Homo sapiens: one gene and its partners. The protein of the gene in region 1 purifies or fractionates together with the protein of each later gene. This does not show direct contact. Each region holds a gene or a part of one and is shown on either strand. Other genes may lie near its edges. The genes, in order: ZPLD1, GNPTG and WDTC1.

Region 1 (3,651 bases):
GAACTAGAAGCTCTCTGATCACACTAATTTATGTGTCTCTGTCTTTGACCATCGTTTGGCCAGCAATGTCTCTCACACTCTTGATTTTGGTTCTCTGGGGTTCAGTCCTCTTCGAAGTAACAGCTGGAGTTCATCTCTAACAATCCTCTCAACCTCTCCTGCTTCATCTCTCTCACAATGGTGAATACTGCCTGTTACTACAACCCATATATTTGTCTGCCTTTGCACCATAAGATTTTTGTCTTGATTTCTTCTGTGACTAGCTAATGATCCTAAAGAATAATCTAATTAAATTCAGAATTTGTGCACACCTCATCTCTGTATCCTCGGTATAATGCTTGGCACAAAGTAGGATATTTAGCAGATCTTTACTAGACAAATGAATAAATCCTACTTCAAACTATTTGATCTAACACATATCCACTTTCTATGCAGAACTTAGTTTCTGACATTTGATAACCTTTCAGCTTAGATCAATTCAACAACTTAAAATGAAGTTCCTTAAAAACATACCGGCATAAGGAAGGGGCAGTCATCTGCTCTGCAGAGCTTGGTAACGCAGTGCAAGAAGACAGTGGACATTTTCTGATTCTTGTGTTTCACAAATCGGAACACTTCAAAAGAAAACCGGCCCCGCTGGCTTCGGCCATTCTCAATGACGGTGGTCTGAGGGTCCTTGTCACAGCTAAATTTTAGGGAACGTGAAAACAGGACATCACTGGAAAGTACCAACCTACTGGGACTTGTAAATTAATTTCTACCGTATTAAGACTCCGCCATTACATTAAGAGCTAACAGAACCATGCCACGTTACAGATATTTAATCATAGCATAAGCTAATTCAACAGATATGACAATAAAACCTGGATCACAAAATTTAAACAGATCAGTTTCTGATTGCATTAATAGTTAGAAGAATTATACTTTCATGTAGTTCAAAAATCCAAATAATTTAAAATACATAGAAACCTGCCAGAGGTGATCTCACTTATTTTCATTCTCATTTATTTTCATTTATTTTCACATCATTCCCAGGGTATATGAAAATAGAAACAGAAGCAATGTATTCTTATTGTCCTCCCTCCTTAAACAAATGATAGCATATTGTCTACACTATGTGGTACCTCGCCTTTTAAAGATTTAGCAGTGTTAGAGATCTTTCCGTATCAATATTTAGAGAGCTTCCTCATTTTTTTCCACAGCTGTATAGTATTTCATCATGGACATGTTTCAGAGTTTATTTAATCAGTTTCCTATTTATGTACATGCATTGTTTTTGAATCTTTTGCTTTTTAAAAACTAATAATGAATAATCTTACAATATATCATGTTGAACATGTACAGGATTAACTACAGAATACATCCATATAATCATTTAATAGATATTGTCACTTTGCCCTATATAAATATTATTCAATTTTGGACTTCACAAGCAATATATGAAAACAATGCTTACTTCTCCAGAGCTACATCAGCGAAATGTATGGATCAAATTTTTTATTATTCCCTATTTGAGAGTAAAAATGAACTATCACCCTATAATTTTAACTTGTATTTTCTTATAATTAATGAGTTTGTGTATCTTCACATACCTTATAGTCATTTGCATTTCTTTATCTGAAAATGGTTTGTGTCTTTTGATCAATTCTGTTGTGTTCTTGGCCATTTTCTTTCTGATTCTTATGAGTTCTTTTATGTATTAAGAAAAGTGGTTACTGGTTGTTATATAAGTTGCAAATTGTTTCCCTTTGTTATTTGGCTTTGGACATTCCGTGTGTGTGTGTGTGTGTGTGTGTGTGTGTGTGTGTGTGTACAGTTTTATTCTTACGTAGTTAAATTTTCAATATGTTATTTTGTGGCTTCTAGTATTTACACTGAAGCCAGTTTCCTTACTCCAAAGTTTTAAAGGTATTTCTCTTGTTTTATTCTACCAGTTTTAAAGTTGTAGTTTTTACCTTTAAATTAATAATCTATTTAGGTTTTATTATGGTATATTGAGTGAAGTATAGGTCCAATACTATTTTTTATCTTACTGTTATCCATGTCCAACACTGTTTTAAAAAATCTACTTATCCCACTGATTTGTGGTACCACACTCTATCTTACACTAAATTCCCATATGTTTGGGGATCTATTTCTCAGTTTACTGTTCTGTGACTTTTGTCTATGTGTCTAGCTTTGCATAATATCACATTCCTTTAATAATTGTGACATTTTATTGATTGTGATATCTGATAGAACCATACTCTGCTCATTTCCATGTTGATTCCCGGCTTATCTTTTTGTATTTGTCATTTATCCCTTTTTTTCTTGACGTGATTAGCTTGTGATTCTCTATTAATGTATTTTTTCAAGGAACCAACTTTTTCTTAACTTCTTCCAAAACATTGGTTCATATTTTCATTTTTGATACAAGTCTTATTTATGGGTTTTACAACTTCCAAGTGGTGAGGACTTTCTGGTTTTTGATATCGTTATAAATTGCTGTCTCTCTGTATATAGCTTATTGCGTATGTCGTTTAGATTTTCTGTATCCTTACTTCCTTACTTACTTGTTGGCCACCAGAAGTAAGTTTTGTAAGAGGTAAAATTCTAATTTTTAAATTTTATTTCTATGTCTTTTTATATTTCCCCTGGTTTCCACTTAATGAAATCTTCAATTTCATCCAGGGCATCATTTCATTATATCAATGTAAGATTTTTTTTTAATTTAGGAAAGTGTTCCTGGATTATATTTTTAAACAATGTGTTCTATTATTTTGGCTTTTGGGGGGACAATTCTAATTATGCATATTATACATATATCGAATTCCCTTTCTCACCTTTTTATTTCTATCTTTCTTACTTAATCCTCTTTTTATTTTCCTTCATATTTGTTTATTTTTATTTGTATTTCTTATACTTATCTTTCATGTCCCACACTGTTTCTGCTGTGATCTGCACTCCTTTGAATGCCTTCTAATTACATGTCCCTTCCTCTCACACATTTTTTTGTATTTCTGTTTATTTTCACTTATCCCAGTTTCCTTTACACATTTCCATAGCCATGGCTTTTACTGTCCTATCCTTACTTACCTAAGTTCTCATAATTCTATCTTCATAACCATGATGCTTTTTGCTTTTTAAAAATTAATGTGGGAATGTATATATTATATATTCCATGGCAGCATTTTTCTGGTGAGTTTAATTCACCTTTAAATTTTCTTTTCTGCCATTTTCGATATTTTTCCTGTAGAATATTGGAACACTGCAAGAAATACCTGCATCTGTTTATCATTCAAGTTTGAAAGAGTTGGATTTCCCTAAACCTAAAATTTTTAGGACCCCTAAGGCAATGTGGAATGGTAAATACCTTCCTTAAGGGTTTCCCCAACTCAAGGGCTCCCTCCTCTGTTTTTCAATAACAACTTTCTTTGAATATAGCAGAACTGTGCAGCTGACTGAACTTAAAAGATATTCACAGGGTTCTACCATCAGCCCTGGGTTCCTGAGGTTTATTCACCAGCCTTGCCACCAAGGACAGAGCCCCTGCCTTCCCAGGCGATTCCTTTACCTTTAGAAGGTATACTTTTCCTGGTACTTTATGAGATCTGCCACTTCTGAGGCTCTGAGCATTCTCTACTGTTTTTTCTTCAGATTCCCCAGCCCTGG
Region 2 (3,651 bases), on another chromosome or scaffold:
CCTCCAGCCTGGGGGACCTTGGGGACACTGTGCCAAGAGGAGTTGGTCAGACACAAAAGGTCGCACACAGTTATGAGTCACCTATGTGACGTCTATGAATAGCCAAGTTCAGAGACAGCAGAATGGTGGGTGCCGGGGCTGGGGGAGCGGGGCAGCTGGGAGTCAGGGTTTGAAGGGGACAGAGCAAGTTGTGGAGATGATGGTGCTGACGGTTGCAGGGCAGTGTCACCAGCGCCTGGGGGAAGAGGGAAGGCGTGCAGCGTCCCTACCCTCCAGCCAGGCCAGCCCCAGGCAGTGCTAGAGCAAGGGCGTGTACACATCAAGGCCAGTGGCAACTCGTGAGTCAAGCCACAGCAGCCACCCTGTTCTTTAAGCTGGGGAGTCGGGACCTGGCTGGGGACGCCACCTTAACACAGCGCCCACCGAGACTGTCAGCCACGGGCCATCCTCCAGGACTGTGGGGAAGGCTGGGGCTTGGGCCGTGGAGGCAGGGAGGGGACTGGCCCCCATCCCCGTCCCCTGAAGGGCCTGCGCTGCAGCAGCAAGTGCACTGGTTAGAGGAGGACGCCCCAGACTGATGTTTCAAACTCTCTGTAGTTTTACCGTATTAATAATAAAGTCGAGGCCAGGCGCGGTGGCTCATGACTGTCATCCCAGCACTGTGGGAGGCCGAGGCGGGCAGATCACGAGGTCAGGAGATCGAGACCGTCCTGGCTAACACGGTGAAACCCCGTCTCTGTTAAAAACACAAAAAATTAGCCGGGCATGGTGGCGGGCGCCTGTAGTCCCAGCTACTCAGGAGGCTGAGGCAGGAGAATGGCGTGAACCCGGGAGGCGGAGCTGGCACTGAGCCGAGATCGCGCCACTGCACTCCAGCCTGGGCGACACAGCACTCCAGCCTGGGCGACACAGCGACACTCGGCTCTAATAATAATAATAATAATAATAATAAAGTCGAAATACACACGAGGTGCTGGGTGACTGTTCCCTGGGAATCTGGCCAGCCCAGGAGCCAGATGCCACACTGGGGCCACCCTCAGCCTGGCCCCCGCCCCCGGAGGGCAGAGGCTAATGCCACTGAGACCTCTGGGGTGCTGGCCCGGCCTGGCCTTCTGTTCCCTGACATTCCACTCACCCCTGGGGCTGTCCCCTCCCAAGACAGATGGAGACCAAGATGGCCAGGCTGCCCTGCTCAGGGGACAGGGGCTGTGGATATAGAAAGGTCCTGGTCCTTCCTTGTCAAATACCATCTGGGTGGCCCCTACTCCCAGGCTCACCCACTGTCCTCCCAGCCTGACCGCTGGGGGCTCTACCTCAGCCCTGTCACACCTGCTGTCCCACAGCCTGGGGTGCTTGGGCTTGGTCCCTCCAGTCTGGCCCTAGGGCCCTGCCCAACAGGCACATAGGGAAGCCTTTGGAGCCATCCCAGAGACCCTGATGTGTCCCTCACCCATCTGCCACTCAGACTCCTGCCCGCAGACCGCCACCCGCACACTCCCGCCCGCAGACCCCCGCCCGCACACTCTCGCCCGCACACTCCCGCCCGCAGACCCCCGCCCGCAGATTCCCGCTCTCACACTCCCGCTGGGAGGGTGGCTGGTCAAGCTCCTGTGTCCTGGGAACTCACGTTCCCAGGCTTGCCCCAGGCAGACACTGCTTGGAGACACCCCAGGAGGGGCGTGGGCGCCGGGCTTAGCTCTGCACCTGCAGGGCCATCCGTCTAAACAGGACTGTGTGAGGGCAGCGGGGCCTGGCCTGGCTCCCCAGCTGGGAGGAGGCCTCTGCCTGGGTGCTGTCCACAGCTTCAGTGGACTCCTACTGGCTGAGGTGCAGCCTCCCGCAGGGGATGGTACCACAAGCCCCCAACTGGCAGTGCCCAGTACCCCAGGTCCTCTGCTGCTGGCCCACACCAGAACCCCGGCCACGGCCCCTCCCCTCCGCCTGGCCCTCAGGTTTCAGCAGCCTGTCCTCCTGAGACAGGTGGGGGCTGGCCCCTCCACGCCTCTTGGGCCAGACACAGCCATACCTGAGCGGGAGTCTCTACCCCCAAATACCACCACCCCCAAATGCCACCACCCCTGCCGGGAGGCTTCTCCTCTGCTCCTGCTTCACCCGCACGTCCCCTGCAGGCTCCGTGTTCACGGCCTGCATGGCCAGGACACTCGCCGGTGCCCTTGGCTCCCGCGGGCCCAGGTGGCCTTACTGCCAGCTGTCCCTGCACCCGAGGCCACAGCTCAAGGCCCATCAGCTTGGCTGAGCCTGGACTCCGTTTCCCCTCTGCCCCGGTCAGGCTTCGGTGGGCAGCACTCCCCCTAGGGCTGCGTCTCTTGGTGACAATCCCTTCTCAAGGGTGGTCCTCCCTCCCACGCTGCTCCCTGGCCCGGCCCCACACCTGGTCCCAGTACCCTCCCAACCTCCACAACCCCCACACGCCACCAAGAACTTCACCGGGGACCTCACCCTCACCCTCCGGCCTCACGCACCCCCTGGTGAGTCCTGTGCCCACCGTGACCCTCTCCAAGCACCAGGGACTGCCTGGCAGACCCAGCCCGGCCCCAGCCGAAAGCAAGCTCCCAGCCTGACCCCTGCAACTCACATGCTGGGAGCCGCACTTGCCATGGCTTCTCTAGCCAGGATCCCGGGGCCACTCTACTCCTCCCCCGCCCCCTCCCCAGATCCAGGACCCTGCCAAGGCCCCAGAGTCCTGCCCAGCTGGCCGCTCCCTCCCACCGCCACCGAGGCAGAGCTCCCTCCTGGACAGTGTGCTGGGCTATGCTGGACTCTGCTGGGCGCTGGCAGGACCACCACACTGACCGTGCCCCATTCCCTCTCCATGCCACAGCGGGACACTGTCTCCAAATCACAGACCTACCAACCTCTGCTCCTCCTGCTGTCAAGGGACGAGGCTCCCGACTCATCTGGTGGAGGCCATGGAGCTGCCCACTGCCCAGCCCAGCCCCACCAGCCTCGGCCCTGGCAAGCCCACCCCTTCCTTCTCCTTGGCAGACACTCTTCTGCGGGGACCTTCTGAGCCCTAGGCCACAATCACCACGCCCCTGAGTTTCTCAGCCTGATTATCTTTCTGCTCAGCTCATTCCACAGACCACACTCTCCTACCCACTGCACACAATCCGCCTCACACGTTGATGTTGAAGGAGCGCTACATCAAAGACAGAAAAAACAAGTAGAATATCCACACCCGACCCCACAGACGCAGGAGAGGATCCACACCCGACCCCACAGACGCGGGAGACGATCCACACCCGACCCCACAGACGCGGGAGACCATCCACACCCGACCCCGCAGAGGCGGGAGACCATCCACACCCGACCCCGCAGACGCGGGAGACCATCCACACCCGACCCCGCAGACGCGGCAGACCATCCACACCCGACCCCGCACATGCGGGAGACGATCCACGCCCCACCCCGCAGATGCGGGGGAGTATCCAGGCCCCACCCCACAGACGCGGGGGACTTTCCACGCCCGGCCCCACCCCACAGACGTGGGAGACAATCCACGCCCGGCCCTACAGACGCGGGGGAGTATCCACGCCCAGCCCTACAGACGCGGGGGACTATCCACGCCTGACCCCACAGGCGCAGGAAAAAATGGTCTGGAGAAAAACACCATCAACAAAACAAAAAGAT
Region 3 (3,651 bases), on another chromosome or scaffold:
TCTTATATAAATCTCTTATAGTGTCTTTCTTAAAGAAATCACTGTATATAATATTTCCTGCTAGTTCTTATAACACTCAGAACCCCCACAGCACTCTCAGACCTGAGTTGCCTCTCCAGCCTGGGCTTTCCATGATTCTTGGGATGGATGCAGGAATGTCGCCTGTTTATTTTCATTCATGGGCTTGGTGACCACTGCTGCCCCTCACACACTGCATGGCTTGGAGCGGGTCTTGAACCTTAGCTTGCTTGTTTGTAAAATGGGAAAAATAAGATGGTCATGAAGACCCAGACAGCTTATAGGACCTACCTGGTAAAGCACTGTAATGTATATGTCTGTAATTGTCTAGTTGGTGGGCCTTTGGGGTTGCTTAGGTAAGGAGGAAAAATACCTCCTGTATGTCTCAGATACAAATGTAAGTTTTCGTCTAGTGAGTGTGGTCTGGTCTAGCCAGGGGCAGTGCTGTAACTTTAACCTATATGATTTTCCTTCCCACCAGAAAGAGCATGAAGCAGAGCCCTTCAGCGGGTGTGCACACCTTCTGTGACCGGCAGAAACCCCTTCCGGACGGTGCAGCCCAGTATTACGTAGCAGGTAGCGCTCAGCACAGCTCTGGCCCCAAACTCTCGGCTAGATGCTGACTCTTTTGGGGGCAGTCCAGGGAGACAGCATGGCATGGTGGTCAAGAGCAAGGGTTTTAGAGTCAGACAGACCTGAGTTTTAATCCCAACTCTGCCATTGACAAGCTATGTCACCTTCAGCAAATTACAGAAAAGAAACTCATCAAGGTTAAGTAAAATGGGGTTATAATGACTAAATGAGATAAAATATATAAAGCAACTAGCCCAGTGCATATAGTAAGGGCTCAACACTTGTAGCTGCTTTTATGCTAAAGTTGATTGGTATAATTTTTGATATGACTGACTTCACACAATCTCATGCCCCTTTGAAAGGGACTGGGACCCTAGTATGACTGGGCTATTCCCTGCAGGTCACCTGCCAGTGAAGCTTCCTGACTACAACAACCGTTTGAGAGTGCTGGTTGCCACCTATGTGACCTTCAGCCCCAATGGCACAGAGCTACTAGTCAACATGGGGGGGGAACAGGTATGTACAGCATAAGGTGGTTCTGCCCCATCACCATTCCATGCCCAGCAGCCAGGGGCATGTACCTTATGTTCACTGCTGAGGCAGACAAGACACAACAGCCTTATGGTAAATGATGTTACATTGAAATGTGGGGGTGATGTGGCATCATTGGAGTTCCCAGAGAGATGTCCTAGCTCAGTCTTTTTATTTCATTTTTTCTTAATGAACTAGATAGAAATATGATAGTATGGCATTTTGGTTAAGAATATAGGCTTTGGAATGGACAGACTTCTGTTCAAATGCTGGCCTGCTGTTCAGCAGCTGTTTACTGTGACTTTGAGCAAGTCTCTTTATTTTTCTGAGCCTCAGTTTCCTCGTCTGCTATTTTCCTAGGAGGAAATCCCTGGGGCTCAGAGCATGCAGCTCAGAGCAAGCTGTGGGTTAGTGCCAGCTTTGGGAAGTGTTCTTTGATAATGGCAGGTTGCTAAACCTTCTGTTTGTGTGCTCTCAGGATATTTAGTAAGCCTTGCATACATTTATTTACTCTACCAACACTGAGCACTTACTCTGGGACTCGCATTATTATAAATATAATAGAGACAAGTGGGAAATATGATCCATCCCCAGGCTGATGGGAGACATGACAAACGAAACAGTTAATGACATTACAAGGCAAGGCCCAAATATATACAAATGAAGCGGGATGCAGAATAGGTGAGGATAAGCCAGACATTCCTGGACCTGTCCAAGGAATCATGAAAAGCTCAGGAGTAGTGCTAGGGTAAACATTTGGCTTTGTGACCTTTGAGGACTTCTTCATCTTTTTAAACATGTGACGTGTTTTTTGTTTTTTTTTTTTGAGTTGGAGTTTCGCTCTTGTTGCCCAGGCTGGAGGGCAATGGTGCGATCTCGGCTCACTGCAACCTCCGCTCTGCCTCCTGGATTTAAGCAATTCTCCTGCCTCAGCCTTCCAAGTAGCTGGGATTACAGGCACATGCCACGCCTGGCTAATTTTGTATTTTTAGTAGAGATGGGGTTTCACGATGTTGGTCAGGCTAGTCTCGAACTCCTGACCTCAGGTGATCCGCCCACCTCACCCTCCCAAATGCTGGGATTACAGGCATTAACCACTGCACCTGACCTTCTATTTTGTTTGTTTGTTTGTTTGTTTTGAGGCAGGGTCTCATTCTGTCACCCAGGCTGGAGTGCAGTGGTACAATCTCAGGTCACTGCAGCCTCGACATCCCAGGCTCAAGTGATTCCCCCACCTCAGCCTCCTGAGTAGCTGGGACCACAGGCACACGCCACCACACCTGGCTAGTTTTTGTATTTCTTGTAAAGACGGGGTTTTGCCATGTTGCCCAAGCTGGTCTCAAACTCCTGGGCTCAAGCAACCACCCTCCTGCCTCAGCCTCCTAAAGTGCTAGGATTACAGGCTACGCCACCATGCCCAGCCAAATGTGATTCTAATTAATGATAGTATTTCAAGCAGGACTTTGGGTAGATCAGATAGCCCACCCTGAATGCTAGAGCTAGGAAGATTTTCCAGCCTGAGGTTTGCTGGAAGTACCTCTTAGGATAGCTTGATTGTTCTATGCTCAACACTCACTGTGTTCCAAGACTCTAGTTCTTGAGAAACCAAGACCTGCTTACTGGTTCAACCACATCCTTACCTCACAGCTTCCATCTCTTTTTTTGCCCCCCTCAACTCTAGGTCTATTTGTTTGACTTGACTTACAAGCAGCGGCCGTACACCTTCCTCTTGCCTAGAAAATGCCACTCCTCGGGGGGTAAGTTCTCCCTTAGGGTATCTCTACTGCGGCGGTGTAGGGGAGCTTAAGTGCATGCTACACCTGCTGAGAAGCCTGCCCTTTACTCTGGACCGTGATCCTCCAAAAATAGCAGATCTCTGAAATAACCCCACCTATGCAGTAAGAAAGAGGATGACAATAGAGCAGAGATCTCTTCAAGAGCTTTGCATCACTGCCCTTTTTGCTTCCCTCTGAAAAGACAGGTTCCTTCCATGGCTTGGCTCTTGAGAACCTGAAATAGTTCCCCTCTCCTTTGTATCCTGGCCCAGTCTTCTCATTGATTTCTTCCTGGGGCCTACAGTTGATTTAGGCACCTCCTCACTCCATTCCCACCCCCAGCCCCAGCCCTAGCCCCAGCCCCAACCCTAGCCCCAGCCCCAGCCCTAGCCCCAGCCCCAGCCCCAGCTGAGTAATGCCACGGTGAAGTTGTGTCCCTCGCCAGCCAGCAGAGGGCGCACGGGCTTTTCTTTATGTCAGAACTTGCTTTCTGGGAATGGATCTTACTCTGGGAGAACAGTCCCACGATGGAACCATCAGACCCCGTGATGGAAGCTAGAGGGCTGCCAGGAAGAAATGGGTCCTCTTCCTGAGTTGTTGCTGTCACTTTCTCACTATCTCCTGCCAGAAGTCCAGAATGGCAAGATGTCCACCAACGGTGTGTCCAACGGTGTGTCCAATGGCCTGCACCTTCATAGCAATGGCTTCCGGCTGCCGGAGAGTAGGGGACATGTCAGGTGAGGCCAGCTGGCTT

What was found.
Region 2: the proteins of ZPLD1 (region 1) and GNPTG purify together in Homo sapiens (affinity purification with mass spectrometry; one large-scale study listed by BioGRID and IntAct). This does not show direct contact.
Region 3: the proteins of ZPLD1 (region 1) and WDTC1 purify together in Homo sapiens (affinity purification with mass spectrometry; one large-scale study listed by BioGRID and IntAct). This does not show direct contact.

The regions. Positions count from the first base shown.
Region 1 is NC_000003.12:102,465,998-102,469,648, reverse strand, and holds part of ZPLD1 (zona pellucida-like domain-containing protein 1 isoform 2 precursor), read right to left. Parts: intron 686-3,651; coding exon 514-685; intron 1-513. UniProt on the Homo sapiens protein: Glycoprotein which is a component of the gelatinous extracellular matrix in the cupulae of the vestibular organ.
Region 2 is NC_000016.10:1,354,785-1,358,435, reverse strand, and holds part of GNPTG (N-acetylglucosamine-1-phosphotransferase subunit gamma precursor), read right to left. Parts: intron 1-3,651. UniProt on the Homo sapiens protein: Non-catalytic subunit of the N-acetylglucosamine-1-phosphotransferase complex, an enzyme that catalyzes the formation of mannose 6-phosphate (M6P) markers on high mannose type oligosaccharides in the Golgi apparatus.
Region 3 is NC_000001.11:27,293,523-27,297,173, forward strand, and holds part of WDTC1 (WD and tetratricopeptide repeats protein 1), read left to right. Parts: intron 1-499; coding exon 500-594; intron 595-991; coding exon 992-1,107; intron 1,108-2,803; coding exon 2,804-2,879; intron 2,880-3,525; coding exon 3,526-3,634; intron 3,635-3,651. UniProt on the Homo sapiens protein: May function as a substrate receptor for CUL4-DDB1 E3 ubiquitin-protein ligase complex.